7 separate regions of the Homo sapiens genome follow, and regions 1, 2, 3, 5, 6 and 7 are each reported to be linked to region 4. Evidence: microRNA targets listed by miRTarBase, many of them from high-throughput screens and not tested one by one. Region 4 holds a microRNA gene; each other region holds the end of a gene's coding sequence.

What was found. The annotated mature microRNA hsa-miR-3202 reads UGGAAGGGAGAAGAGCUUUAAU and lies in region 4 at 1,918-1,939, shown strand. An mRNA with a match to its seed (bases 2 to 7 or 8) in the 3' UTR can be bound and repressed. Matches are read on the target gene's strand: a 7mer-m8 pairs with bases 2 to 8, a 7mer-A1 pairs with bases 2 to 7 and ends in A, and an 8mer does both.
Region 1: the mRNA of G3BP1 is a reported target of hsa-miR-3202. Seed matches in the 3' UTR shown: 7mer-A1 at 3,853-3,859.
Region 2: miRTarBase lists LCE1B as a target of hsa-miR-3202. Seed matches in the 3' UTR shown: 7mer-m8 at 752-758.
Region 3: miRTarBase lists MARS2 as a target of hsa-miR-3202. Seed matches in the 3' UTR shown: 7mer-A1 at 639-645.
Region 5: miRTarBase lists C20orf96 as a target of hsa-miR-3202. Seed matches in the 3' UTR shown: 7mer-m8 at 1,116-1,122, 7mer-m8 at 1,163-1,169 and 7mer-m8 at 1,168-1,174.
Region 6: miRTarBase lists PPP2R2A as a target of hsa-miR-3202. Seed matches in the 3' UTR shown: 7mer-A1 at 2,978-2,984 and 7mer-m8 at 2,881-2,887.
Region 7: the mRNA of ABLIM1 is a reported target of hsa-miR-3202. Seed matches in the 3' UTR shown: 7mer-A1 at 670-676 and 7mer-m8 at 34-40.

The regions. Positions count from the first base shown.
Region 1 is chr5:151,803,028-151,807,172 of GRCh38, forward strand. It overlaps G3BP1 (G3BP stress granule assembly factor 1), which reads left to right. Exons shown (of 12, transcript NM_005754.3): 12 at 858-4,145. The coding sequence ends at 1,064. Among named protein-coding and RNA genes, the nearest start is that of G3BP1, 33 kb to the left of the region's middle.
Region 2 is chr1:152,812,095-152,816,239 of GRCh38, forward strand. LCE1B (late cornified envelope 1B) reads left to right here. Exons shown (of 1, transcript NM_178349.2): 1 at 1-1,014. The coding sequence starts at 353. The coding sequence ends at 709. Among named protein-coding and RNA genes, the nearest start is that of LCE1B, 2.2 kb to the left of the region's middle.
Region 3 is chr2:197,706,829-197,710,792 of GRCh38, forward strand. MARS2 (methionyl-tRNA synthetase 2, mitochondrial) reads left to right here. Exons shown (of 1, transcript NM_138395.4): 1 at 1-1,567. The coding sequence ends at 359. Among named protein-coding and RNA genes, the nearest start is that of MARS2, 3.4 kb to the left of the region's middle.
Region 4 is chrX:153,978,942-153,983,086 of GRCh38, reverse strand. MIR3202-2 (microRNA 3202-2) reads left to right here and starts at 1,911; the gene lies at 1,911-1,989. It overlaps TMEM187 (transmembrane protein 187), which reads right to left. Exons shown (of 2, transcript NM_003492.3): 2 at 1-1,237. The coding sequence starts at 1,024. The coding sequence ends at 239. It overlaps MIR3202-1 (microRNA 3202-1), which reads right to left and starts at 1,990; the gene lies at 1,910-1,990. RefSeq lists an enhancer at 2,504-2,613.
Region 5 is chr20:268,054-272,198 of GRCh38, reverse strand. It overlaps C20orf96 (chromosome 20 open reading frame 96), which reads left to right. Exons shown (of 11, transcript NM_153269.3): 11 at 932-1,336. The coding sequence ends at 992. Among named protein-coding and RNA genes, the nearest start is that of DEFB132, 12 kb to the right of the region's middle.
Region 6 is chr8:26,369,559-26,373,703 of GRCh38, reverse strand. It overlaps PPP2R2A (protein phosphatase 2 regulatory subunit Balpha), which reads right to left. Exons shown (of 10, transcript NM_002717.4): 10 at 1,024-3,570. The coding sequence ends at 3,291. Among named protein-coding and RNA genes, the nearest start is that of BNIP3L, 11 kb to the left of the region's middle.
Region 7 is chr10:114,433,691-114,437,796 of GRCh38, forward strand. It overlaps ABLIM1 (actin binding LIM protein 1), which reads right to left. Exons shown (of 23, transcript NM_002313.7): 23 at 1-2,683. The coding sequence ends at 2,570. Among named protein-coding and RNA genes, the nearest start is that of AFAP1L2, 31 kb to the left of the region's middle.

The sequences.
Region 1 (4,145 bases), not on the chromosome of region 4:
TGCTGGTGAAGAGCATAAATTGAATATATTGAAATGTTTCGTAGCCCCTTAACTACTTTGGCTCTGTTAGGAGGAAACGAAGGCCAAGACTATCCAAAATTCTCAGGAGGTGTTAAAGAGCAAATTAAAGTTTATGTCAAATTAATGAAGTTTTTATTTTAAATGTATATGTACTTTGCATAAATATGTACAGTACCATCTTTTCACACTGGTGATGATGAGGTTTTATTCTAAGCCTCCAAATCTATGGAGAAGGTGGCAATTTTTTTTATTTTTTATTTTTTATTGGGACGGAGTCTCACTCTGTCGCCCATGCTGGAGTGCAGTGGCACGACCTTGGCTCACCACAACTTCCGCCACCCGGGTTCAAGTTGCACTCCAGTCTGGGTGACGAGTGAAACTCTGTCTCATTAAAAAAACAAACAAAAAACTGAACTGTGAGAACTTAGCTGATTTATAATCTGCTGGTTCTTTTTTTTTTCTGAGTCGGAGTCTCGCTCTTTTTCCCAGACTGGAGTACAATGGCGTGATCTTGGCTCACTGCAACCTCCGCCTCCTGGGTTCAAGCAATTCTCCTGCCTCAGCCTCCTTGAATAGCTGGAACTACAGGCGTGTGTCACCATGTCTGGCTAATTTTTGTGTTTTTTTAGTAGAGACGGGGTTTCACCATGTTGGTCAGGCTGGTCTTGAACTCCTGACCTCGTAATCCACCCGTCTCGGCCTCCCAAAGTGCTGGGATTACAGGCATGAGTCACCGTGCCCAGCCTCTGCTGGTTCATTATTACAGCTTTCTTTATCTTTGATAGTGATAGCCAGCTCATCAGTACTCTTAAGTCTGGTCACCTTGATTCTTACAGCCCATCATGTTCAGAGGTGAGGTCCGTCTGAATGTCGAAGAGAAGAAGACTCGAGCTGCCAGGGAAGGCGACCGACGAGATAATCGCCTTCGGGGACCTGGAGGCCCTCGAGGTGGGCTGGGTGGTGGAATGAGAGGCCCTCCCCGTGGAGGCATGGTGCAGAAACCAGGATTTGGAGTGGGAAGGGGGCTTGCGCCACGGCAGTGAATCTTCATGGATCTTCATGCAGCCATACAAACCCTGGTTCCAACAGAATGGTGAATTTTCGACAGCCTTTGGTATCTTGGAGTATGACCCCAGTCTGTTATAAACTGCTTAAGTTTGTATAATTTTACTTTTTTTGTGTGTTAATGGTGTGTGCTCCCTCTCCCTCTCTTCCCTTTCCTGACCTTTAGTCTTTCACTTCCAATTTTGTGGAATGATATTTTAGGAATAACGGACTTTTAAAGAAGCAAAAAAAAAGACTGAATTTCCTTGCTTACTTTGCATATACAGACTGGATTTTTTTTTTTTTTTTACAGCCATTTCCCCAAAGGAATGTCTTGCATATTACTGACATTTGGTATGTTTCATTCATTGGAATATTTCTTATTTTCTACGTGTTTGAAAAGCCTGTAAGAAATACAGGATTTGATAATATTTTGAAGGCAGGAAAAACCCAAATTGTTTCTTCTTTGAGAGTCATGACTACCTTCTGGTGTGGAGAAATTGCCATTGGAAAATTTGACAATTTTGATTCTCACTGGTATGTTTAAAAACTGAATAAAAGGAATAGAATTTTTTTTTGATAAAGGATCACAAAACAATTCTAAAACCTAACTGTTTTTACCATTGAAATTTAAATTGTGATAATAGGTTTTAAATGTCTAGAATGCAACTGATAGGCTTTTCTTGAACTGTTAGTTTTTTTGAAGTAGTTTTTTCATGTTTAATTTGTATTTGTAAAAAAACAAAAAGCAAAAAAATTCCCAAAACCCAGATAACAACCAGAGCAAAACTGTTGTGCCTTCTATTTATCTTTGATTTCAGTCTTGGCAATTGTTTAAAAAAAAAATCTAGATTTGTTTTATTAGGTTCAGAGTATGTGGGGAATTATAGAATCCCTCTTTCATCACTTTGTGTATGTCTTTTGTTAACATATTTGTTATGCCTTATTCTAAAATTGAGTCTCAAACTGGAATGCCTTTGAAGACAGATGCTTCTATAGAGGTTCTTTGACCTAAATAGTTCAGCATTTGTATTTTTATTCTGGTATCTAATCAGATTCCTAATCATAGCCCGTAAGAAGGAATGTTACTTTAATATTGGACTTTGCTCATGTGCTCGTGTCCGCATTTTTTTTTTTCTTAAAATCATAGCCATATGGTAAATTTTCTATTTTGTTATGGTTCTCTTTTATTGATGGGCATGCAGTGGGTGTTACTTGGAAATGGCCAATTTTTATTAAAATATTTCTGGAAGAAAATTTAATCTGGCAATATAGACTAATACTCGTTTCACATATGTGTTATTTGTTGAGTGCTGTGTGTGAGATGGGTGAAGGTTTTGTTTACACGTGTGAAACAAACTTTTGTGTGATTGTCATTACTAATTGAAGGGCAACCAGGTTGTAAAATTCAGCGTATTTATTTTCTTAACAGTATTCATCTTTAGGACTGTCGTTTGAGGATAGCATAGGAATATTTGGTTTGCATTACTGAGAAACTCTAGGTTTGCTGTGATGGTTAAGACCACAGTGAAGTTGGTATTACCAGTTTGGTTCCAGTTCCTCAAATATTTGAAAATTGGCAGCATCTCCTTTACATAAACTTAATGTAACTGAATCACATGGCTTTTTTGTAGGGTTAAAGTAACTTTGGTAACCACTTTTGGCCCAGATCACTGATAATAGGAAGAAATACAACTTATACTTTTGTAGCTTATATTAAGCATGTGGTGGGTGGAAAGAAAAGTTTAGTCTGAGTCACTTTGGAAAAAAAAATTACTTTGTGGTAACTTCAAGGTCATAAATTATGGATAGCCTAGAAATTATCCTTCATGAGTGAATACTAAATTATACATTTCAAAACAGAAGTTCTTCCTACTTGGAGACTTAAGGGCATTAACTAGATGCAGCAATCCTCAGCTTGGTGTTATCACATACTAGAGGACATTTGGAAATGTGTGAAATTTGGAAGGGTTGTTGGAGAGACATGCATCTGGCATTTATTGGGTGGGGTCTAAGGATACCAAATGTTGTGTAAAAATGAAGCAACCCCATTGAGAACACTGATAGTCCCTATTCCTGTGGGTGGGTGGAGCTGTGGGATTAGGAAAACTGGAATGAAGACTCATTCTTTTGAAACTCAGCCTCAGATAAATAACAAACTAGGAAATGGAAATCTGTTTCAAGAATTGCAGTAACATCTACTCTAAGGAATTAGTAATTTCACTTTTTATTATTTGTACCAAATGTATGTGTGTGTTGTGTATGTTGGTGTAAATGTGGAGAGGTGGTAGCAATACATACTGATGCTGCTTGTAATTTGTTGCAGGGAATTACTGCACAATCTCAGAAAATAGAAAGCTTCCCCAGTGCTTTCTGTCATCAGAGTTGGGATGATTGTGAGGTTTTGAATGATAGTATTGGACCTAAGAAATAGGATTAGCATCATGATCAGAACTGTTGAGAATCCTTGTACAATTATGTACATTATTGCATGTAGAGTAAACCTGAGAGCTTAGAGATGTATACGTTTCCACTGCTGGAAAATCATTATAAGTTAGGGCAACATTTTCTATAGGTGGCAGCAGTAGGAGCTCATCACATTGAACATTTTCAGATTTTAAAATGAAAATTTTCATCCGTAGGAATGGCCCAATGTATAGTTATTAGCTACTGAGCTTAGAACTCTTGACCCATGAGATTTTTTTTTTAAATTTTTATTTTTATAGAGGCAAGGTCTTGCTATGTTGTCAGGCTGGTCTCAAGCTCCTGGCCTCATCAGTTCTCCTGCCTTCCAAGTAGCCGGAACTACAGGTGTGCACCATTGCACCTGGCCTCATGAGTATTTTAGTTAGATAAGATTTGTTTGGTTCAGTGGGTCTTAGTTTTTTAAGACCTGTTAATTTGTAATTAGACATCTTGGGCCTTAAACTGTATTTTTGTTTTAGTGGTGAGGTTGGGTTTTACTTTGTGTATTCCAGCGTTCTCAACTTTGTCAGATATTGCTAGGGACCAGTGAGATAGATAATCCAAAAATAATAATTTGACTTTGGTTGAGTATGTCATTACCACAGTGTTAGTTG
Region 2 (4,145 bases), not on the chromosome of region 4:
GTGTGTAGTTGAAGCAGAATGTCTCCTCTACATACTACATGCTTGATTTTGAGAATACTTTCTTAATATCTTTTGGCTTCGGTTTTCTAATTATAAAATAGTTGAAAATGCTTTATGATTTTATAAGTATATAAAAAGCATTAGGTTCAAAACAGAGGCTATAAGTGTGTTTAGCCAACTATTAGACACAATGAAACTTCCCGTGATTAATTAGCTACAACTACACTAAGCAGTTCATCAAAATGTAGGGATTAGAAATGATGCTGAAAGGGCAAGAATAGGCCGGGGTGGCCTCTACCTGGGTCTAACTTGCTGTCTGACTCTCTCTCAGCTCCTGAACACCCGCACCAAGATGTCCTGCCAGCAGAACCAGCAGCAGTGCCAGCCCCCTCCCAAGTGCATCCCCAAGTGCCCTCCCAAGTGCCTCACCCCTAGATGCCCCCCAAAGTGTCCCCCTAAGTGTCCTCCAGTCTCTTCCTGCTGCAGTGTCAGCTCCGGAGGCTGCTGTGGCTCCAGCTCTGGGGGAAGCTGTGGCTCCAGCTCTGGGGGTTGCTGCAGTTCTGGGGGAGGTGGCTGCTGCCTGAGCCACCACAGGCGCCGTAGGTCCCACTGCCACAGACCCCAGAGCTCTGGCTGCTGCAGCCAGCCCTCCGGGGGCTCCAGCTGCTGTGGAGGAGGGAGTGGCCAGCACTCTGGAGGCTGCTGCTAAAGTGGATCCTGAGCCTAGAAGAACACAAATGGCCAAATATTTCCCTTCCGTCTTCCTTCTCCTTCTGGGCCTGCCCATGTTGTTGAGAGGTCTTGGTGAGGGCTCAACTCAAGCATAGAGGATTCTTCTGTCTTGGAGTTCAGAGGCCCAAAACTTCTCCCCCAAAGCCAAGCCATTTAATGACCTCAGTTTGCGTATGTGTGGTTGCTCTGGGAAGCCCAAAGCACAGACCTATATCCCTTTGCAGCTTGTCTTTTTGCATAGCTCAGCCTGATGTGAAACAATAAAACCAGAAATATGCATTCCTTTTTGCCTTGACTGATTGTTATTTTTTCATTGCTTTTCATACTCTGTCCTCATCTCCAGGCTCTCCCAAGATGTTAGTATCTACAGACCTTGTTCAAATTTAGCCAATCTTCCTACTAATATCCTTTATAACAAAAGACAATTTTGTTGGTTCAAAATCCAATCCAGGATCTCCATTGCCTTGACATAGTTGCCATGATTCTTCAGTCTCCTCCAAACCGAAATGGCTCTTCAGTCTTTCTTTGTCTTCCTTGACATTGACCTTTTTAAAGAACTATTGGTTTTGTAGAATGCCCCTCAATTTGGGTTTCTCTGATGTTTCTTCTTGACCAGGCTCAGATTACACATTTTTGCAAATATCCTACAAAAGTGATGTTGTCCTTAGAGCATGATATCAAGCCTTACATGATGTCTAATTGTCCCATTCCTGGAGATACAACTTTGACCACTTGATCTGCCAGCTTTCTCTATTGCAAATTTAATATTTATTCCTTTGAATTAAAAACTTATGAAGGAGAGAATAGTTAAACTTCTTTTTTGAGTTGGAGTCTCACTGTCGCTCAGGCTGCAGTGCAGTGGCACCATCTCGGCTCATTGCAACAACCACTTCCTGGGTTGAAGCATTTCTACTGCCTCAGCCTCCCAGGTAGCTGGGATTTCAGGTGTGTGCCACCACGCCCAGCTACTTTTTGTATTTTTAGTAGAGATGGGGTTTCACCATGTTGGCCAGGTTGGTCTTGAACTCCTGACTTCAAGTTATTTGCCCACCTCAGCCTTCCAAAGTGCTAGGATTACAGACGTGAGCCACAGCCCCCAGCCTAAACATCTATTTTGTTTCAAACATTTTCCCAAAACTTTTTTAGTATAATTGATGTTCTTTTACAAAACTGTTATTATTATTATAGTGTTGCTGGTATTGTTGAGTATAGTTTTTTAAAATATATTTATCTCATACCCTGAGTCTATGTACATATGTAAAGCAAAGAGAGGTGGTGAGGATGGGTCCTGAGCAAAATCAGCAATGTCCTGCAACACAACTACTTGAAGGAAGGCCATTACAATTTCTTCTTGTTGAACTCTTATTATATCTAATTTCCTGTGATGACCATCCTTATCCATTTATCTCTCCTACATTATAACTCTACTTTCAGGTAAATTCCTATAACACAATGTTTTTGTGTAAAAAGATTTGCTTATTATAAATTTAAACTCATTACACCTCAATAAGTATCAAATTGCTATCCAGAATTGTTATGCCAATTCACATTGCCATCTCAAAATATGTTTATTACCAACTGTCACATACTATTTTGTTAGTCATTAAAATAATTGTCATTTTGAAATAAGTAAATAAATCTGTTAGTCTCCTTTCTCAAATTCAAGATATTTCTTTTTTATTTTGTTTGCATTTGTTTGAATATCAGTAAAGTTGAACATGTTTTTTGAAATTTTTTTTGTTTGCTTGTTTTAAATGGAGTTTCACTCTTTTGCCCAGGCTGGAGTGAAGTGGCACAATCTCGGCTCACTGCAACCTCAGCCCCCTGGGTTCAAGCGATTCTCCCACCTCAGCGTCCCAAGTGGCTGGGATTACAGGTACCTGCCACCATGCCCTGCTAATTTTTGTATTTTTGGTAGAGATGGGGTTTCACCATGTTGGCCAGGCGGTTCTCGAACTCCTGACCTCAGGTGATCCACCCACCTCAGCCTCCCAAAGTGCTAGGATTACAGGTGTGAGCTACTGTGCCCAGCCTTTTTGAATTTTATTTGCCATTGTATTTGCAAAAATATGTACATATGTGATGGTTAATTTTATGTGTCAACTTGGCTAGGCTATGGTTCCTAGATCTTGCTCTAGCACCATTCACCAGTCTAAATGTTGTTGTGAACATGTTTTTTTTTTAGATGCGACTAATATTTAAATCAGCAGAGTTTGAGTAAAGCAGATTGCCCTCCATAATATGGGCAGGCCTCAACCAATCAGTCAAAGGTCTTAAGAGAAAAGACTGATATCCAGAGACGGAAAAAATATTCTGCCTCCAGGAACAAGGAATGCTTATACACTCTTGGTGGGAGTGTAAATTAGTTCTGCCATTGTGGAACACAGTGTGGCAATTTCTCAAAGACCAGCAATTACCATTCAACCCGGCCATCCCATTGCTATGTACATACCCAAAGAAACATAAACTATTCCATTATAAAAACACATGCACATGTATGTTCATTGCAACACTACTCACAATAGCAAAGACACGGAATCATCCTAAATGTCCATCAATGATAGACTGGATTAAGAAAATGTGGTGCCTATATACCATGGAATACTATGCAGCTGTAAAAAAGGATGAGATCATGTCCTTTGCAGGGACATGGATGGAGCTGGAGGCCATTATCCTTAGCAAACTAACACAGGAACAGAAAAACAAACACTGCATGTTCTCACTTATAAGTGGGAGCTAAATGATGAGAACACGTGGACACATAGAGGGCCTGTCAGAGGGTGGAGGGTGGGAGAAGGGAGAGGATCAGGAAAAATAACTAGTGGGTATTAGGCTTAGTACCTTGGTGATGAAATAATATGTACAACAAACCCCCATGGCGTAAGTGTACCTATGTAACAAACCTGCACTTGTACCCCTAAACTGAAAATAAAAAGTTAAAACAAAATCTGCCCTCAGAATGATTTTGGACTTGAGACTGCAACATCAGCTCTCCCCTGAATCTGCATCCTGCCATCCTTCCTTACAAATTTTGGTTTTTCCATCCCTGATAGTCACTTGAACCAATGCTGCAAAATAGTCCTCTTTCTCTCTTTCTTGCTCACACTTACTTTACCAAAACATAACAGAATCTAAAGGAATAGAATCTTAAGGACAAGTTTTCTGAATGAGTTCTGGGATTTCTGGAATTTGTTTTCTAGCCTAACTAGATTTAAATGCACTAATGAACCCTATTTCCCATAGTGAAGAGAACACTGATAGTAAATGTGGCTATAGGGATTTGCAAAATATCACTATTGGATGTTTCTAATCAAATGCTTATAAGAGACAAGGTTTTGAGTGGCTATGGATTTGCTACCTGTGAATACTTTTGTCAAACTAATGAATATAAAGAGATTGGCTGGTTTCTCCTC
Region 3 (3,964 bases), not on the chromosome of region 4:
CCGTGTCCAGCTGTGTCCGGCAAACTAATGGTTTTGTCCAAAGGCATGCACCATGGAAGCTGAACTGGGAGAGCCCAGTGGATGCTCCCTGGCTGGGTACTGTGCTTCATGTGGCCTTGGAATGTTTGCGAGTCTTTGGGACTTTGCTGCAGCCTGTCACCCCAAGCCTAGCTGACAAGCTGCTGTCTAGGCTGGGGGTCTCTGCCTCAGAGAGGAGTCTTGGAGAGCTCTATTTCTTGCCTCGATTCTATGGACATCCATGCCCTTTTGAAGGGAGGAGGCTGGGACCTGAAACTGGGCTTTTGTTTCCAAGACTAGACCAGTCCAGGACTTGGCTGGTGAAAGCCCACCGGACCTAGAAACTCAGTTCTTACCGGCTTGTGGTAAAAAAGCAAATGTGTTATCTTTTTATTTTTTATTTTCAGGAAAGTTATACTAGTATTTTCTTAAGTGTGGAATCAAATGAGCACATAAGCTGTGTCCCTGTGAAAAGAGGTTTGTAGCCTTTCAGGTGCCTGCTCCTATTCATTTCTCTGTGACCATTGATCACTGTCCTTTGTGCATTGTGTGTCTAAGATGTCTTCAGGGGAAAGATGGGTAAGAGACAGTGTTGCTAATGCTGTTCCTTCTTTGTGCCTCCTTCCAAACCACAGTTATTTGCCCAAACTACCTCTCGTGGCTGGTTTTTCATTGGCCTGGCCTCTGCTTCTCAGGCTAATTAGTGACTCCTTTCTTTGAGGGTCAGGGTTGGAGGCCCCTTACTGGTGGTTTTACAGGGGGATCCTACTTTGTTACACATGTTGGGTTTCCTGATAAAAAGAGAGTATTTTATTAAACCCTTGAACCAGTGTCCTAGACCAGATGATTTTTGCCCATGTGTATCCCCATTTAAATTCCTACAACTAAGTCTCCCTGCTTTGTTAATAGTCCAACAGTTGGGTTGTGTAACATCACACTTCAACCGGTAGATGGCTCTAATCTCACACATTTACTTACTAAAGATTGAGGATTCGGAATATTTAGAATAAATTAGTTTTCTGCTTTCTAATTTTGCAGATCTTTACATTTTTATTGCTTTTCTTAAAATAAGGGATAGCTTTGCAACCACTATTGTTTTAATGGAAAGCAAAAAACCCCCCCAAACTTATCAGAATCCTCGTTCTTTTTCAGACTACTGAAAAATGACATTTACTCTGTTAAATGTTTAATAAGTGAATAAGTAAATGTATCAAGTTGTTTATATAATAAATTATAAAACTCTTGAGGCACTTGGTATGTTAAAAATTTTAAACTTTAGTAACATTAGGTTACAGGTATGATTTAAAAATTTGTAAATAGTTCAAAAGGGCAATGTTTTCTTTATATTTCTTATAGTCTTAATTTTGTTATCCATGTGCATAATTTACCTCATGATTTCTTTTGGTCAATCAGGATCTTTAATACAATATAGAAATTGTGTAATAGTTATTATAAATGTTAATACACAACTTTCAGGTAATTTTAACTGATTATTTCTTTTGCTCTTTTAACTTAAGTTATTAAAGTTTAAAAGTTCGTAAGTACCTTATTCAGATCTGTTCTGTTGCATTCGTTGAAGGTGATGGTGAAAGGAGGAACTGACCAATGCTTCAGGAATCTCAGACTGGATTTAGGAATCTCTCTAAGGCTCCATAAGAGAACATCACAGAGAAGATGTTAGCAATTTATACAGTGATTACAACATAGTAAGCCAGTTATGTCTCATAGGTGATTAGACAGCTGGGCCAAAGTTCAAAATGAGAACTTGCCTTGGAATATACATTCTAAGTATGGTAGCAAGTAGAGAGGGCCCACAATGAATTAAACTATTGTACTGGTAGTTCCCCTGGATTTATTCTAGGTGCCACCATTCAGTTCCAGTTTCTGTTTATTAATCAGCGAAATGAGGAATTTTTGGTTGCTGGAATATTGCTTAGAAGAGAATGCTTGAAGGTATTCTAAAGGTGGAAGGACTGTTGCCACAAATGTCCCTTCAGACCCTTCTTATTCATAAGTCTGGGCTTTCCACATGACATGTTCAAGTTAACTGCTGGGGTTATTAGCACAGACTACTGGGGCATAGGATGTAGGAGTGTAATATCTCCTACAGGTGGATAGAGCAGAGAGTGGAAAAAGATAATATGTATTTACGTGGATGAAGGAAAACATATTTGAAAACCAGTGAGATGATAACCTCTGCCTCTGAAGTGCTCTTATAGCAGTGTTACAGTTCCTACCATGGATGGAGACAGTGTCTTCTACTTGAATGATCTTTCCTATAGCCTTGTGCTGGTCAATACAATCGACCTTTGCTTGCTGGAGGGTGTCAATGGAGTTCTTTTAGTGCAGTCTGTCATTTGTGCAGGCACTTAGCTGGCTACCTGGATATTTGTGATACTGGAGGACACAAGAACATAGGGGAACCAGATAGGACAGGGCGTAATTATTAGAAAGACAGGATATTTTATTTTGTTTATTTATTTATTTATTTATTTATTTATTTATTTATTTATTTTTGTGTGAGCAATAAAGCTTTTTAATCACCTGGGTGCAGGCGGGCTGAGTCGGAAAAGAGAGTCAGCGAAGGGAGATGGGGTGGGGCCGTTTTATAGGATTTGGGTAGGTAAAGGAAAATTACAGTCAAAGGGGGTTCTCTGGCGGGCAGGGGTGGGGGTCACAAGGTGCTCAGTGGGGGAGCTTTTGAACCAGGATGAGCCAGGAAAAGGAATTTCACAAGGTAATATCATCAGTTAAGGCAGGAACAGCCCATTTTCACTTCTTTTGTGGTGGAATGTCATCAGTTAAGGCAGGAACCGACCATCTGGATGTGTACGTGCAGGTCACAGGGGATATGATGGCTTAGCTTTGGTGCAGAGGCCTGACTTTCCAAAGACAGGGTATTTTAAATGGAGGAATGTGTGGTAAGTTGGATCTGACTTCTGCGGTGATCCTGAAGATGAACCAGTTGGATTCTCTATAGGAGGCACAATAGATACAGCAAATATTCTTTGAATAATTAGTGATGTGTTTGAGTTGGTCCAGAAGTTTAAGAATAGCAAATGGAGAATACGTGAAAACTGAAGGGGATGTACTTCCAAGAGGGGGCATCCTAACCACTTCTGGTAGAAAATGATACACTTGTAGAATTCCCTACTCTAGCACTGTTAATACTTTTATCTGGCATTTTCTGGATTCCTTCGCCAGAAAGTAACTGTCTTCCAAATACTATCCTTGAAGTCCTCAAATATTCATTTTGGTGTGTTCCTGGAAGCAGCGTTGCAGGAGGTGAAAGACCACTGCCTAGATCAGGTATTCATGGATGTCACATTAGGAGAGTAATAAAAAGACGTCAACTCACTCAGCAGACTATAATCCTCTCTGTGAAGTCATGTGAGAAGTGGGCAATGCACATTTTAAGTTGCCCCATTATATACTGGAGGGCTGTTTCACAAGTGAACTCATAGATTAGACAGAAGACCTATGGCTATAAGAAGGAGCATAAGAAATAGATATAATCTCTGATTTTATTGAAACCTCAGTTTATTCTGCATGTAGACCTCATTATTTCTCTTAAGAATCTGTGGACTTTGTAGGGTCTATGAAGAGCCCAATAAATTGAATATGAAGTTGATGTCAGAGTACTTAAGAAGGGCCTAGGCTGGAACATGGGCCCTGGGACACTGGTCTTCCCCCTTCCCCCCACCCCCCAAGGTGGTTGTACCTGTGATTGGGACTTAGGTTAGCTCTTTAGCTCTGGGAAATGTCAAAACTGAAGTGAAACCAGTAGTTGGTCAGGTTGTGAGCCCTCAATGAGGATGACATCATCATGAAGTGAGACCTGGAGTGCTGGTGGGTCCTTGCCTTGTCTTTTGTCAGAAAGTGAATATCAATGGACCTAAAAGGGTGTAGACATATTGACAGATTATTGACAGATTATTATTATTAT
Region 4 (4,145 bases):
CAGGAACACACACATCCCCTGTGCGGAGATCTGTGCTTTATGTCTTTGAAAGTAAGTTGTCGAGATCACAGCACTCCACCCCTCCACACCGAAGCCCGCAGCTTCTCAGGAAAGGGCAGTCTTGTGTGATCAGTGCATATCATCACACACAGGATGTCTGACACTGGCACCACGCTGCCATCTCAGAGTCCATTTCAATGCTGGGGGTCATCGGTTTTCAGCAGGTTCTTCCCTGGGTTCAACGCGTCTTCCCGCCAGAGGGATGGAATCTTGGGTGAGTGTTGAAATGCGTCAGAAACAAAAACGCAAAGTGGAACTGGAGCACGTCACAGACCTTGGACCAGAAGTGGCCTGTGAGGCACTGGAAGAGACGCCACCGTGCGAGCTGATGGTCACACAGCTTGAGGACCACAAAGCCCAGGCAAGAGAGCACCCCCAAAGCTAAGTAGGTAGCCGAGGTGGTGCTGCCATAGTGCCTGTGGGTGCGCAGCGCCTGCCCCACAGCGGCCACCACGTGAGCACCCAGTGCGACCTCGAAGCCCTGGGGATGCAGCAGAGCGAGGCCATAACTGGCCAGGGAGACGCACTCAAGAGAGAGGAACAGCCAGGGCCGCCAGCCGCGGTCTAGGTAGAGGCACCAGGCCACGGGCCATGCAAAGATGGGCAGTGTGAGCCACTGGTCCAGCACCGCGGCACGGCGCCACTGCGTCCACAGGCGCAGCCACTGCACGGGGCCATAGAGCAGGGCCATGGCTGCGAACACGTCCTTCAGGTAGCGGGGACCCAGCCCCATCGCGCCGCCCCTGTGCAGCCACGACAGCCCCAGCAGCGTGTAGGCCATGTTCACGAGTGAGTTGAACGGCATGGCCAGGAAGGCAGGGAGGCCGGCCACGGGCGCCTCGGCGTAGTGCTCATAGCCCACTTGCACGGAAACACTGTCGAAAATGCCCGTGAACACAGCCACGGCACAGAGGCCACCGGCCACGGCCACGTGCACGAAGGCCTGCCCCCACTCTGGATTCATCTGGAACCGGCGGCGTGACCTGGGGCAGGGAGCTTCAGAGAGCAGCCTTCAATACGCAGCCTCTGCAGAACACTCTGGGCCTCCCGGCTGAGCCAGCAGAAAGAAGCCCCGTGATTTCGTGATTTCCGAGGCAGATGCTGCGACCTTGCCCCGAAGGAAGGCAGGAGTCCTGCTGATTGGCTGGCGCCAGCGGAGGAACGTTCTGCCTTTTTCCTTTGTGGTTACAAAAGGAGTGTGGTTAGAAAACAAACCGTCCCCAGCACCGCCTCCATGTTCCTGACCCCCGGCCTCAGGAGCTACCAACCATCTTCACTGGAGAAGCAAATCAGAGTGAAACCGCTGCACACTGACTCTCTCAAGCCTCTAGAATCCTCTATCACCCCTTTCTCCTGGCACCTAGGAAAATCCTGCCCATCGTCCTAGTTTCCTTAAAGCCACTGCATCTACAGACAAGACCTGTCTAGCTCTGTCATTACAACTCAGAATGCGCCTTCCCATGTCAGTGTGTTATAAAAGTGGACGTCTCCAGCCCCAAAGCCCTTTTCACCAAATACCCAGCTGAACTAGAGACCATTAGATGGAGTCCGAGCTCTGGCCTCTGACACAAGGTGGGGGATGGAGGAGGAGGAGGATTCACCGTCTGCCACTCAAGCACCAGGCCGGGAGGCAAGGGGGTGACCCGCAGGCTTCCCAGGCCAGCTTCCCTGGCTCACTCGCCTGCCCTCTCCTGAAGTGCCAAGCCCCAAATCACCTTCTTTCCTCAGGCCACCATAAAGCCTTCTGTCTCCTTCAGTCACAGAACCAGAGAGACAATTTAATTACCACTGACTGTCAACTGCTTTGGGGCCACTGGTGCTGTAAGTGAGCCCTAGTAGCTGAGAAATACATTAATATGGAAGGGAGAAGAGCTTTAATGCTCTGAAAATGACTCCAATCATTAAAGCTCTTCTCCCTTCCATATTAATAAATTTCGCACTCAAGAGGGTGGGCGGGTAGGCGGGCTCAGGGAGAGAGAAGGGTGGGCTCCAGTTCCTGGTCAGCTGATGCCAGACTGTTCAAACCTTGGCTCTCCCACTTACTAACCATGTGATCTTGCACCTTAACTGTCTTGGGCCTCGGTTTGTGCACCTTTTTTTTTTTTTTTGAGACGGAGTCTCACTCTGTTGCCCAGGCTAGAGTGCAGTGGCACAATCTTGGCTCACTGCAACCTCCGCCTCCCAGGTTCAGGTGATTCTCCTGCCTCAGCCTCCCTAGTAGCGGTGATTAGAGGCGTGTACCACCATGCCCGGCTAACTTTTCTATTTTTAGTAGAGTTGGGGTTTCACCACGTTGGCCAGGCTGGTCTTGAACTCCTGACCTCAAGTGATCCACCCGCCTCAGCCTCCCAAAGTGCTGGGATTCACAGGTATGAGCCACTGTGCCCAGCCCGGTTAGCTCACCTTTGACCTAATCGCTTAGAAGTTCCAGGCCTGGGAGGGATCTTAGAAACCATCTGTGCCAGCCCCGGCATTTCACAGATAAAGAAACTGAAACTCTAGCAGTTTGACTTGGCTGAAAGTTACAGTGAGGAGGAGCAGAAACCCAGGCATGCCGCCTCCTGGCCCCAGGTGCTCTCTGCTCACCTCCCTGGAAGAAGCGCCAGGAGGGCTTCCACGTGGCTTCTTCCTTGCTTTCTGCTGCCATGGCCTGGGTATTTTTATTTAGACACGGGGGTCTTGCTCTGTTGCCCAGGCTGGGGTGCAGTGGCACAATCACAGCTCACTGCAGCCTCCACCTCCTGGGCCCAAGCTATCCTCCTGCCTCAGCCTCCCAAGTAGTTGGGACCAGGGATATACCACCACCTTGCCCTGCTAATTTTTTTTTTTTTTTTTGAGACGGAGTCTTGCTCTGTTGCCCAGGCTGGAGTGCAGTGGTGCGATCTTGGCTCACTGCAAGCTCCATCTCCCGGGTTCACGCCATTCTCCTACCTCAGCCTCCCTACCACAGCGCCCGGCCTGCCCTGCTAATTTTTGTTAAAAAAATTTTGGGCCAGGCATGGTGGCTCATGCCTGTAATCCCAGCACTTTGGGAGGCCAAGGCGGGTGGATCACGAGGTCAGGAGATCGAGAGCATCCTGGCTAACACGGTGAAACCCCGTCTCTACTAAAACAATACAAAAAATAGCCAGGCGTGGTGGTGGGCGCCTGTTGTCCCAGCTACTCGGGAGGCTGAGGCAGGAGAATGGCGTGAACCCTGGAGGCGGAGCTTGCAGTGAGCTGAGATCGCGCCACTGCACTCCAACCTGGGCGACAGAGCGCGACTCCATCTAAAAAAAAAAAAAAAAAAAAATTGTAGAGACAGGGTCTCACCATGTTGCCCAGCCTGGTCTCGAACTCTTGGCCTCAAGTGATCCTCCTGCCTTGGCCTCCCAAAGTCCTGAGATTACAGGAGTGAGCCACTGCACCCAGCTAAACCCCTCTTAAGTTGAAAGTCCAGTTCCTATATTTTCGACTTATGATGGGTTTATCTGGACATTACCCTGTTATACATCAAAAAGCATATGTAGCTGGGCATGGTGGCTCACATCTGTAATCCCAGCAATTTGGAAGGCCAAGGTGAGAGGACTGCTTGAGTCCAGGAGTTTGAGACCAGCCTGGGCAACAAAGTGAGACCCTGTCTCTACACAAAATACATAAAATTAAATTTAAAAAATAAAATAAAAATTAGCCAGGCATGGTGGTGCACCTATAGTCCCAGCTCCTCAGGAGGCTGAGGCAGGAAGATCACTTGAGCCCAGGAGATGGAGGCTGCAGTGAGCTATGGGCCACAGAGCAAGACCCTATCTCTAAAAAAAAAAAAGCTAGGCGCAGTGGCTCACACCTATAATCCTAGCACTTTGGGAGGCCGAGGCAGGTGGATCATCTGAGGTCAGGAGTTTGAGACCAGCCTAGCCAATGTGGTGAAACCCCGTCTCTACCAAAAATACAAAAAAATTAGGCCGGGCACGGTGGCTCACGCCTATAATCCCAACACTTTGGGAGGCAGAGGCGGGTGGATCACTTGAGGTCAGGAGTTCCAGACCAGTCTGGCCAACATGGTGAAACCCTGTCTCTACAAAAATACAAAAAAATTAACCAGGCGT
Region 5 (4,145 bases), not on the chromosome of region 4:
TATTATTATGAAAAATTTCAAATATAAAGAAGAGAGAATGATATAATGAATAGCCAGTTTTGCCCATCTAGATTTAGAAATTTTTTTTTTTTCTATGTTGGTTTCATGTTCATTTTTTTAATAGTATTTGTAAATTGCAAGTATCCTGACATTTCCTGCCTAAATACTTCATGTGTATCAGCAGATTATTGAAACCATGAGAGAGGATGGTCTCCTTGGAAGAGAGAAAAGAGAGTGAAACAGAATGTAATCCTTCAGCCTCTTAAATATTTGTGCTGGTCCCTGCAATGGGGAATATATTGCTGATGGGAATCCATCTCTCTTGCTACTTTCATGGAAATAATAATGCCTGTCATTTACTGAGCACTTATTACCTGCTGGCATGGTCTCATTTAATCTTTCCACCAATGACTGAGGTTAGAATATTAAACCCATTTGACAGATGAGGAAACTGAGGCTCACTTGGGGTCTGGGACTTAATGAGTGCTTTTCACTTAAGTGCCAACTGAAGGAGTGAGGCTGGGAGAGTAGAAATAGCTTGCTCAAGGTGACACAGGTCAAAGTTATCAAACCTGTCATCCTCACTCCAAAGCCAGTGATCATCTTGAGGGCCCTCAGCATTTCAGAGCTGAGTTCCTGCTCCCTCTTGACCTCAGACTTGTCAGGGGAACATTTGTCCTGCCAAACTCATTTCTTTTCCATTTTTGATGTGTGTGTATGTGTGTGTGTGTGTGTGTGTGTGTGTGTGTGTGTGTATGCTTGTGTATGCACAGTTGGGCTTTGAGGTCACAGATAGATCACAGATTGTATTTTGGGATTGCCCCCCAACCCAAGTACGTACCAGAGTTCTAAAGAGCAGGGCTCCTCTGAGTGGGTGCTCCCACACCGCCACCTCTGGTCTCTCATGGCCTTCTGTGCTGCCTCCCACCAGGTGCACCCCAGACATGGATGTCATCCTCAACATTCCTGTGGAAGAGCCACTACCCTTCTAGATGGCAGTGCCATGGGCCGCCCTCCCCTCCTGCTCTCTTCCCAGCACCTGGAGCCTTGGATCATTTACTTCCAGGACCGGATCTCCATTCAGACCCTGATCTACAGTCTCCCTGCTCCCTCTGCCCTTCCTCCCTCTTTCTTTCCCTCCCTCCCTCCCTCCCTTCTTCCCCCCTTCCCTTCCCTCCTCCTTCCTTCCTCCTCTCCCTCCCTCCCTCCTTTCTTTCTTCCTGTGGTTTTTTCCTCTCTTCTTCCCTTCTTTCTGGTTGGTGCTGCTGGGCCAGGTGGGAATTTCTGATTAAATCTGCTATTCCTTTTTTACCAATAAAGCTGGATTTACATTTGCTTTTTTGCCAGTGTCTCGGGGTCCCCAGCTAGGTCTTGCAGAAGATGTGGTGGGAACGGACTTCGTCTTATGATAAGGGGCGGGCAACTGTGCTAACTGCATCTGGGGCTCAAAACTTCTCCAGAAGAAGTGCTGGAGCAACCCCCTGCCTGAGTCTCCATGGCTCAGTGGCTCTGGGCCACTCCCTCCTGGTGCAGTGGGAGCCCAGCTTCTCTCCAATCTGTGCCCAGACCTATTGAGGGCATTGTCGGGGCTGACAGGCTTATTGATTTTAATACCCCTGGAACTTGCTAGGCCTTCAGTGCTTGGAACAACTCAGAAGGGCTACTCTGGCTCCAGAACTTCCTGAAGGCTCAGCTGCAACTACCCTTGGGCCTGCACTGCAGCTGAACTTCTCCCTGTGCCCAATCCTGCATATTTCTGTCTTCCTCAGTTGTTGATTCCAAGAGCACTCATTACTCAACATTCTGCACCCTACACTCCATCTCAGAGTTGGCCTTTCTGGGCCAACTACTAGATTGCTACAACCCCCAAGAGGCTCTGGTCACTCACAGATCCACTTTGTGTTAAGATACTTGGTTACAGGTAACAAAACAACCAAATCACATTGGCCTAAACTATGAAGGGCTCAGGTCAATAAATAGCTTAGGTGAGGCTTTGTCCAGAAATCAAGTGATGGCACCAAGGACTTGGTTTCTATTTATCTACTTTGTTTTCTGAGGTGTTGCCCTTTTCTTCAGGTCAGCACTGCTTGTGGCCCCAATATGCCAGCATCTCCCAGGGTTGTACAGGTCCTTGTACATGTCCTGTTGGAAAGAGAGAGACTGGCTGTGTCCCAGAATTTTCAGCCAGTGTATTAAGATTCACTGTAATTGGGCTGGGCACAGTGGTTCACGCCTGTAATCCTAGCACTTTGGGAGGCCGAGGTGGGTGGATCACTTGAGGTCAGGAGTTCGAGACCATCCTGGCCAACATGGCAACACCCTGTGTCTACTAAAAATACAAAAATGAGCTGGGCGTGGCAGCAGGCACCTGTAATCCCAGCTACTCAGGAGGCTGAAGCAGGATAATTGCTTGAACCTGGGAGGCAGAGGTTGCAGTGAGCTGAGATTGTGCCACTGCTCTCCAGTCTGGGTGATGGGGGATGAGACTCCGTCTTTAAAAAAAAAAAAAAAAGATTCATTCTAATTGAACCAGCTTATATTACACGCCCACCTTGAGCCGGTGTTGGAGGTGGAGCGTGCCTGCTGGTTTAGTTCAGGTCACGGGCTCTACCTTGGAGCAGGGAAGGGATGGTTAAGGTGGAACACGTGACCTAGGCTGAGCCAACAGGTACTCCCCAGAGCCATGTGGATCTCCAAGCAGAAATGGACCCTGTTGAACACAATAGCAAACACTTCAATGGAACCTACGTTATGCTTTACATACATCAACTCACTACACCCTCACAACAACCACCCTGTGAAGTAGGTATTGTTTATTGTTATTTTCATTTTACAGATGAAGAAACCAAAGGATGAAAAGGCAAAGTGATTTTTCAAGTCACCAGGTTACTAAGTGGCAGAGGCAGTTTGCTCTTAACCACTGTACAATCAGGAGCTCAGCTGAGCAGGAGAGAGCTGAACTGCTAAGTGCTGGAGTAGCTGATTAATGATGGCCCGGCATGGTGGCTCAGGCCTGTAATCCTCACACTTTGGGAGGCTGAGGCCAGTGGGTTGCTTGATCTCAGGAATTTGAGACCAGACTGGACAACATGGTGAAACCCCATCTCTATAAAAAATATAAAAATTAGCTGGGCATGATGGTGTGCACCTGTAGTCCTAGCTACTAGGGAGACTGAGGTGGGAGGATTGCTTGAGCCCAGGAGGCGGAGGTTGCAGTGAGCCGAGATCGCACCACTGCACTCCAGCCTGGGTGACAGAGCGAAACCCTGTCTCAAAACAAAAAAAGTCAAAGCAAGTAATAGCCAAGCCCCAAATCTCTTATTATTACAGTACAAGAAAGAGGCTAAACCAGAGAACCTGGTTTGTTTTATTTTGTAGAACACAGATCCACCTGTTCTAATTTCCTCATAGAATGATGCCAACTGGGGTCGGGTGGATGAGCACAGGTGTGGGGTTGGTCTCACTGCAGAAAAGCTTCCAACAAAAAGGCTCCTGAAGTTGTACGGACCTGGGGGCCAGGGATGGGGTGGGGAAGGGAGAGTGGGAAAACTTCTGAGTCAGCATGGAGGAAAGTGTCTTCAAGGATTCTCCACTCCCCAAGATAAGGAGGTCCTGGCCGAAGGCCTACCCCACTGCAATGAAGACGTGTCTGAATGAAGACTTGGGTTGGGAGCGGAGATGTGTGTGAGAGGTCGACTGTCCAGGAGGCCTGAGTCTGTGTCTGCAACTGTCTTTAAAGACTGCAACGCATCAGCTGTGCACGACTCAGCTGTGAGGCCTGCCAGGTAAAACCTGTCATTGCCTGTGTTTGGGCTGAAAAATCACACATAGGTTTTTAGCCAGGAGCTGGACTGTTTGTGAAGGGATGCATGAGTTCAGAGGAGGAAAACCAAGAAAGGAAGCCTGGACATAGGTTCCCTCGCATTGCACGTAGCCCTCATGCCTCCGAATGCGCCAGAGAGTGACCCCGCACATGTACAGCATCTGTACATGGGTGTCTTCCCAGGTACTCAGAGCCGCGTGCGCAGCTCTCACAGGCAGATACACCTGCATGCACATGCACATGGATGCATACTGGGACTGTTTCTTTTCTTTTTTTCTTTTTTGAGACGGAGTCTTGCTCTGTCGCCCAGGTTGGAGTGCAG
Region 6 (4,145 bases), not on the chromosome of region 4:
ATAAAACTCCCTTTTTAACCACAGTAAGACATACACGCAGAGCTTAAACTATCACCATCTGAACAGATAGATAAGTAAGATACTAAAGTACAGGTGCTCTCAAATACACAAGTAAACTGACTTGATTCTTGACTACCCAGCATATGCCTATCTTTTCCATCTTTTGGGGGGGATTGGTTTTGTTTTTCTGGAAGGGCACAATACTATCTACATTTGAATTTATGTGTGGTAAAGATGCTCAAACAATATTCCCTTAGAAGGGTTTAAATATCACTAAAAATTCTTTATCAGTACTGCATAGCTTTCACATGTGCACAATTTCCTAATTAACACCTTACTCAAAAGTCACACACTGAAAGAACCTGCTTTCCTATCTCTAGCTTTCCGTAGAAGTATCCCTAACCAGAATAACTCACATTTAAGGTTTAAAAAATTCTCTTCATTTTGAAAGGAAAAGAGTGCATGGACGCATTTTTGTTTGAGTCGGCGTCTCGCTCTGTCACCCAGGCTGGAGTGCAGTGGCGCGATCTCGGCTCACTGCAACCTCTGCCTCCCGGATTCAAGCCAATTCTCCTGCCTCATCTTTTGGAATAGCTGCGATTAGACACGTGCCACCACACCTGGCTGATTTTTGTATTTTTAGTAGAGACGGCGTTTCACCATGTTGGCCAGGCTGGTCTCGAACTCCTGACCTCAGGTGATTCACCCACCTCGGCCTCCCAAAGTGTTGGGATTACAAGAGTGAGCCACCGCGCCCGACTGGATGCATTTTTTTTAATCCCAAGAGACGGAGGGCTGCACAGAAGCTTACCATCCAGCAGTTAATGGTTACATAAACATGTATTTAGACAGGTTTATAAAACAATTCTTATTGCCCAGCCACTAAGTAAAGATCAAAAGAGGTTAATAGAATGAAAGTCCTTTTCCTACCCACAATCTCTTCTAAAAGGTTAAGTGATGGAGTATGTGCATGTATATTAGTGGCAAGAGAATAGGAAATACAAGCAACTTGACAAGACTAAGTTTATTCTAAGTATAATTTTTATTAATAAAAAGATTAACCATGGCCATGTAAAATGAGTGGCTGGGCTTAGAGTTTGCTACACCAATGAAATTAAAAAATTAATACTTGAGAATGTTAACAATAATTTATAATAGCATTCCTTGATAGAGGCATTTTAATTTTAGCAATTATTTCTCTTAAATATATAAACTAATCCTTAGTGTCATGGAGGAGAATCATCATAGCTACTGATCAATCAAAAAAGAATTTCTGAGAGCTGTTTGGTGGTGTTATCTCAAGACATACAACCAAGCTGTAGGAAAATCTCCCAAAAAAGATCTGGAAAACTGTCCAGTCACAACACAGGAAGAATATCACTGTTTGACACTTGTGGCAGGGGAATATCCCACTTGCAAGTCAAGCGTGAAGAATAAACACAAATTAAGAATGTACCCAAGATCCCCAAATAAATTAGTAAAAGTGCCATTAAGAATTATCAGACATAGAATGTGTTTCAAATACAAATTTGTTAAATCCAAAAGATACAGTAATTTTATTACATAAAATTTCTCCTGTGTGCTAAAAATGCTAACTTACAAGACATAATATTTGTAGTAGAGGGAATCACGGTCGGCTCGTTGAATTCTTTTTCATTATTGAAGAATAGAACAATAGGTAGTGGACATAGAAGCACTCAGAGTCCTCTGAAATTCAAGGTTGTTACATTATGTTCCACCAAAATAAGACTACCATTCTCTAATAATATAAATGCCTGTTCATTTCACCTTTCAAAAATAAAGTCCATTTCTTCTCCATTAAAGTTTCTGCAAGACTGACAAAGGTACATTCTACCTATTAAAAATAGGAGCACTCTTCATCTTTGGATAATGTATCACCGCTTAGGGAAAATGTATTCATATACAGATTTTTATTTGAGGCAGCTGTTGGAGTTCATTAAGCACTTTTTGAACGCTGTACCTTTAAAAATTTGTCTTTCATATAGCTTTGGAAAACCAAAAATAGAAGAAAAATATCTATGGTAAAGTATATTTCATTCTGATTTGATAGCAGTAAAATACAAAAAAAGTATTTAGTGCAGTGTCACTTGATGTTAGTTTTCTGCTATTTTATATGACTGAATAACAAAAAAGTTCTAACTTGTTAAAAATGTTTTATAAGTCTTTGACTATTTAGTAAGGCAAAAATGAAATTAAGCACTCTAAAAAGTAGAAATTAAGTTCTACAAATTTGGTTCCCATTTACAACAATTTCATTAACACATAATGAGTTAAATAGAGACACAATGTATCCAATACCCTCATGATGGTAAAAAAAAAAAAAAAAACTAGTAGCATTTATAGATTGTGAAATCCTTAATAAAACCTATATTCAAAATATGTTCATAGAGAACCAATACCTCTCCTCCTGCATGTAAAAGAACACTTGTTAAAAATAATTAACAAAAATACCAATAAACAATGAAAACCCATTTTGTTTCACTGTGCCCAAAGGTATGACACAAAATATTGGCTACAAGAGGTAGGTTAAAAAGAAAAAGAAAACCAGATTCTCCATTCTTTGTCACTTTTATTCAGTAGTAGGTTTTTTTTCCTTATTTTCAGTGCCAGACACGGCGAGGAGTGATTACAGCCAACTGTTACTAAAACATTTGTTTGCAACATATACCCCCTTTATACCACTGACCCCAAACTGACTCATTTTGTGTGCTTTCATTCTTTCTTTTTTTAATATACCACCACCAAGACCGGGTGGAGGGGGCAAGGGTAAGAGATGAAGGGGAGCAGTCCAGGAGGCCAGAAGAGGAGGAATGCTACAAGCCACAGTAAGAATGAGCTGTATTTAATTTAAAAAAAGGGGGAAGGGGTGTACCCCACAAATGATACAGTAATGAGGATACACAATTAAATCCCATAGCATGACTGAAGGCTTTCACTGTGTTTGACGTCATCACAATGGAAGGCATAAAAAGTGGAGTAAATCAATGTTGATACAGTCCAATCTAGTCCATTAGGCAAGATGGTGCAAGAAGTCATTTAAATTAAAAGTGCCCTACCCTTACCTAAATGGCTAGCAGACATGGAGAACACCACAGTGATGAATCCACAGAGCTTTCTCCATGTAGCTATAACAATGTGTTGTCGAATGGCACACTGTCAAACACTGGAAAGGGGCGCCACAATGGACCTCTCTCTTTTATAGGAACGAATGCTAGATTCAACTATCTCAACTAAGCAGGAAGTGGGTTCTTCTGCTAGGAATGCCAACCCTAATTCACTTTGTCTTGAAATATATACAGATTGTTTGTAGTAGCTACGGCAATGATATTTTCCTTGGGGTGCCAGGCTGTGTGAAGGATTTTCTTATTGAAGTCTAGGCTGTCAACACTTATTTCATCTTTCTTTCGCTTGCCACTTGCACAGACTTTGCGAGGCTTCAGAACTGTGCGAGGCTTATTGTTTTCCCGCGATGCTTCTAGGGTTATGTCTCGCTTTGTGTTTCTGTCAAACATTCTGAAGAAATTATTGTAAGATCCAGTCATGACAACACTGTGAAAATAGACAGTACACTCAGTCAAACAAGCAGAACAAGAAATTGTTTTCAAGTAAAATGATTCGGCAATTAAACCATAGGAAGCTACTTCAAAAGCAGATTTAAACTAAGGGACAGGGGCTGTTGACATCAACTCAATCACTAGAATAAACCAGAAATACGGTACTAATTAACTGGGTTTTCTGCTTATTCTTTTTATGGCTACCAAAACTATCAGCAAAGTTGACAGCATCCTCAAGTAAAACTTCTTAGGAGTGCAGAATTATCGTTGTTAAGTATTTTTGCAACTACAGGCTATGTGATCAACCAGGCCAGCCAGCTTCTCAAAGGAGCAACTATCTGTGGAACTCACAGGTTCTAAAACAAAAGAACCCCGCATGAAGTAGCTGTAGCTGTTCACAAGAAACCAATGCTTTATCTTATGATTTACATTTTTTGGGCCGGGCGCAGTGGCTCACGCCTGTAATCCCAGCACTTTGGGAGGCCAAGGTGGGCAGATCACGACGTCAGGAGATCGAGACCATTCTGGCTAACATGGTGAAACCCGGTCTCTACTAAAAATACAAAAAAA
Region 7 (4,106 bases), not on the chromosome of region 4:
CAGGCCCCTTAACTCCTAGTCTCTATAAAATAAGGAAGGGGGTTGTCCCAGTTTTCAGTCTAATGTCCCCATTCTATGACAGACCCATGTCTTCTTTATGTAGACCAAGGAAGAGGAATTTTAGCAAAACTACCTGATTATGCCCATGTTTCCCAAATACCTTGATTTTTCTTATATTGACATTTCATCTGCACATGTCTGGGTGATAATTCATTAATCAATGTAAAACGTAGGGACCCTTTATTAGCTCCATAATGAAAAAAATCTCTCCACCAGCCAAGTGCTGGGACCCAGGTGGCCACCATTGTTATTGACAGGTAAGGAAGCACTGGAAATGCACCATCCTCTCCATCCCCACACTTTCCAGAGTAAAGCAAGGATGAGGACACCCAGGCATTGTGCCAAGGCTGCCATTGCAGGAGGGCACAGAGAGAGGATGGGATAGAAAAAGCATGGAATAAGCAAGAAGCCACTGAGACACCAAAGGCTAAACTGCAAACTGCAGTGTGGCTTCCAACCAAGCAAGAGCTGGTCTCATCTGCTCATGGCCACCCTGTCAGAGCCATTTGCTAAACATGTTAGTAGATCCAACACACACACACACACACACACACACACACACACACACACACACACACACGAGAGTAGTCCTCATTCAGTGCATAGCAATGGAAGGCTAGGACAATTTAGATTCCTTAGGTAAGAGCACAGGAGGATGCTATAGAACAGTGACTGTTCATTCCATCCCCCAAATGACAGCGGTGAGCCACGTGTCAGAGGCTGCAACACAGACTCAGAAACTATTCTACTTGCTTTTTTACCACTGGTGTCAGAGAGACAGCTTGTAATCCTAATATTTGGTGCCAGCAGGAAGAACTTCAGAGCTTTTGTTCTTAGTGGCATATGAAGGTAAATTCAAATGTTTTCTTCTTCGGCTTTAAAACAGAGCTTAAATTCTTAAGCACAGCCCCAAAGCATGATAATAAAGTGGCTTACCCTCCTGGGTGTGGAGTTACACAAACTCTCCCTCATCTAACTCACGTCGGGAATCATGATGTGGTTTCATATGCACGCACGTGTTGGGGAAACCCTAGGCTCATATTCGAATCTAGTGTTGCAGAGCCTGAGGGACTCTCGTGAGATGCTCTGACCTCCACATCCCACCTCATCCTTCCTCTGTGGTTCCCAGTCTGATCCTTCCATGAGCTACATCAGCGCCAACACCTTTCCATGAAGGAAGTGATGTTGGGGTCGCAGTTTAGCCTCACTCTTGATCTTTGAGTCACACACACTCGGTGACAATGTCTTTAGAAGCTGCAACACAGCAGGACAAACATTCAAGCAGAAATTAAAAAGCACATGCATGCTCACAAAATTACTCTGGGTGAGTGAAACCAACATGTGCACACACACCCATGAATTCGACAGAGCTGGGCAAGAAGAAAGCTGAAAAGGCCAAATTAAATACGTTCGAAGGAGTCTACTTTGGAGTTGCAGAGATTTAAAAGAGAAAAACATGTCTTTCCTTAGCCTATTATTGAAAGAAACCTTAAAAACCAACAACAGCATGGGCTTGATCTGATTCATAGGATGCCAGAGAGACAGCAGAGGATAACGACTGGAAGAACTAGAGTCAGTAGGACATGGGACTTGTTTTTGTTTTTTGCTTTTTGGTTTTTTTTGGCCATGAATGATATGGCCCCTATGCAAAATCACCTAATGGCATGCCACTGGGCCAATCTGGGGGCAATTTGTGTTTTTCCTTTCTTTGCAAAGGTGGAGCTCCAGACAGCTCCTGTCCTAGGCGGGGAGCAGGAACCAGACCTGCTATGGGAAGCAGAAAGAGTTAAGGGAAGGTTTCCTTTCATTCCTGTTCCTTCTCTTTTGCTTTTGAACAGTTTTTAAATATACTAATAGCTAAGTCATTTGCCAGCCAGGTCCCGGTGAACAGTAGAGAACAAGGAGCTTGCTAAGAATTAATTTTGCTGTTTTTCACCCCATTCAAACAGAGCTGCCCTGTTCCCTGATGGAGTTCCATTCCTGCCAGGGCACGGCTGAGTAACACGAAGCCATTCAAGAAAGGCGGGTGTGAAATCACTGCCACCCCATGGACAGACCCCTCACTCTTCCTTCTTAGCCGCAGCGCTACTTAATAAATATATTTATACTTTGAAATTATGATAACCGATTTTTCCCATGCGGCATCCTAAGGGCACTTGCCAGCTCTTATCCGGACAGTCAGCACTGTTGTTGGACAACAGATAAAGGAAAAGAAAAAGAAGAAAACAACGCAGCTCCTGTTGTATACATAAGGTAATGTGAAAAGCTCACATGTGGACACTACTCTGTGTTTCGGAACATAGAAATTTCTACGCCATGCTTCTTGGCAAGTGTTACTGTTGGCTGGCCCGACATTTGACTCATGGTGTTTTAACCAGACTTTCTCTTTTTGGTGTTGCTGAGCGACGGTAGTTTGCAAATTCTCCAATCAAGTTTGGGCCTCAATATGACATCCTATGGGGCACCGCCACTGTCAGTCCTTTCTCTAATTGCCATTCACGAGTGGGACTTAGAAGAGTTTTGCTTTTTTCTTCATGTCGTTGCGTCTCCAAAGAGGTAACCTGTCAAACTCCTGTATGGACATTCCAAAGATTTCCCGAAACACTTCAGGGGCTAAGTGGCGCTGGGAAGAAGAAAAAAAAAAAAGAGCTGCTGTCAGTCCTGATGGCCACACAAATGGCCTTGAGCGTTGCTCTATAGTTTATACAGAGTCATTCTGAAGAACAAGGCAGGAGGACGGGAGAGGAGCCCATCTTTAATGCTTGTGACATCAGTATCCCTTACCTGGTTGGGCCAGGTGAGGAGCCCTTCCCATCAGATAAAAGAGCTGGCAGAGTATTAATGGGGATTATAATAATAACACTGACTGGTGATGGGACACAGAGAGGTGATTTATTACATTGGAGACAACTCCATCCCAGGTCCTTGGAACGTTGAGAAGATGCAGGGAAAATGGACTATCGCAATAGAAAGCCAAAGAAAATGACCTCCAGCGTGGTCCCTGGGGAGCCCCAGGGCTTCCTCCTGGCTGAGGAATAGGGGGTAAGGTGGATGTCTGTTCTACTGAGAAGACTTCCCATCAGTCATTCCCCCCTAGAAAAGTTCCCCCAAGATCCTGCAGCCTTTATTCTCTGTACCTCTACGCCAAGGTACTGCCTTTTGTCAGGAAAAAGTAAGCATTCTTTCGGAGACTGGCAGCCAGGGTTTTTCTTAATTAAAATCATTGGGATGGAAAACTATAATACAAAAATTAGTCTTCCATGTCTAAGGAGATCTTGGGTACATGTACCCAGATAACCCTTCAACAAGGAATGTGGAAACAGCCAAGAAAGAAACTTGTCCAGTATAAATCAGTATAAATGTCTCTCCTGAGAGCCTTTGCCGCTCCCACAGCCTCCCATGAACTCAACCCCAGCTCAGGGGAAGATAAGGATCTGAGACTATCTCAAGAGAAATAGCGACTCCCATTCTGAATTACCAGCCATAATTATGGCAACATCAAGTTTCAAAGAAAATGACTGAAATCATTCTGTGTCTCCTGGGTCATTCTTTTTTTCTTTTTCTTTCTTTCTTTTTTTTTTTTTTTTAGACGGAGTCAGGCTCTGTTGCCCAAGCTGGAGTACAGTGGTGTGATCTTGGCTCATTGCAACCTCCACCTCCTGGATTCAAGCGATTCTCCTGCCTCAGCCTCCCAAGTAGCTGGGACTACAGGCACCTGCCACCATGCCCCGTGAATTTTTGTATTTTTAGTAGAGACAGGGTTTCACCGTGTTGGCCAGGCTGGTCTTGAACTCCTGACCTCAAGTGATCTGCCTACCTCGGCCTCCTAAAGTGTTGGGATTATGGGCGTGAGCCACCATGCCCACCTCCTGGGTCATTCTTCTGGATATTACCAGGCATTTTTATGCTGATCTAAGTGAAAACCTGGATATTTTTTTTCTCCAAAGTTATTTCTTAGTTCTACCTATGACATGAGGGTGATCTTTATAATTTTTTTTTGTTTTCACTGAAGAAATAAAACATTGCTTAGGGGAGAGTTGGGGGAG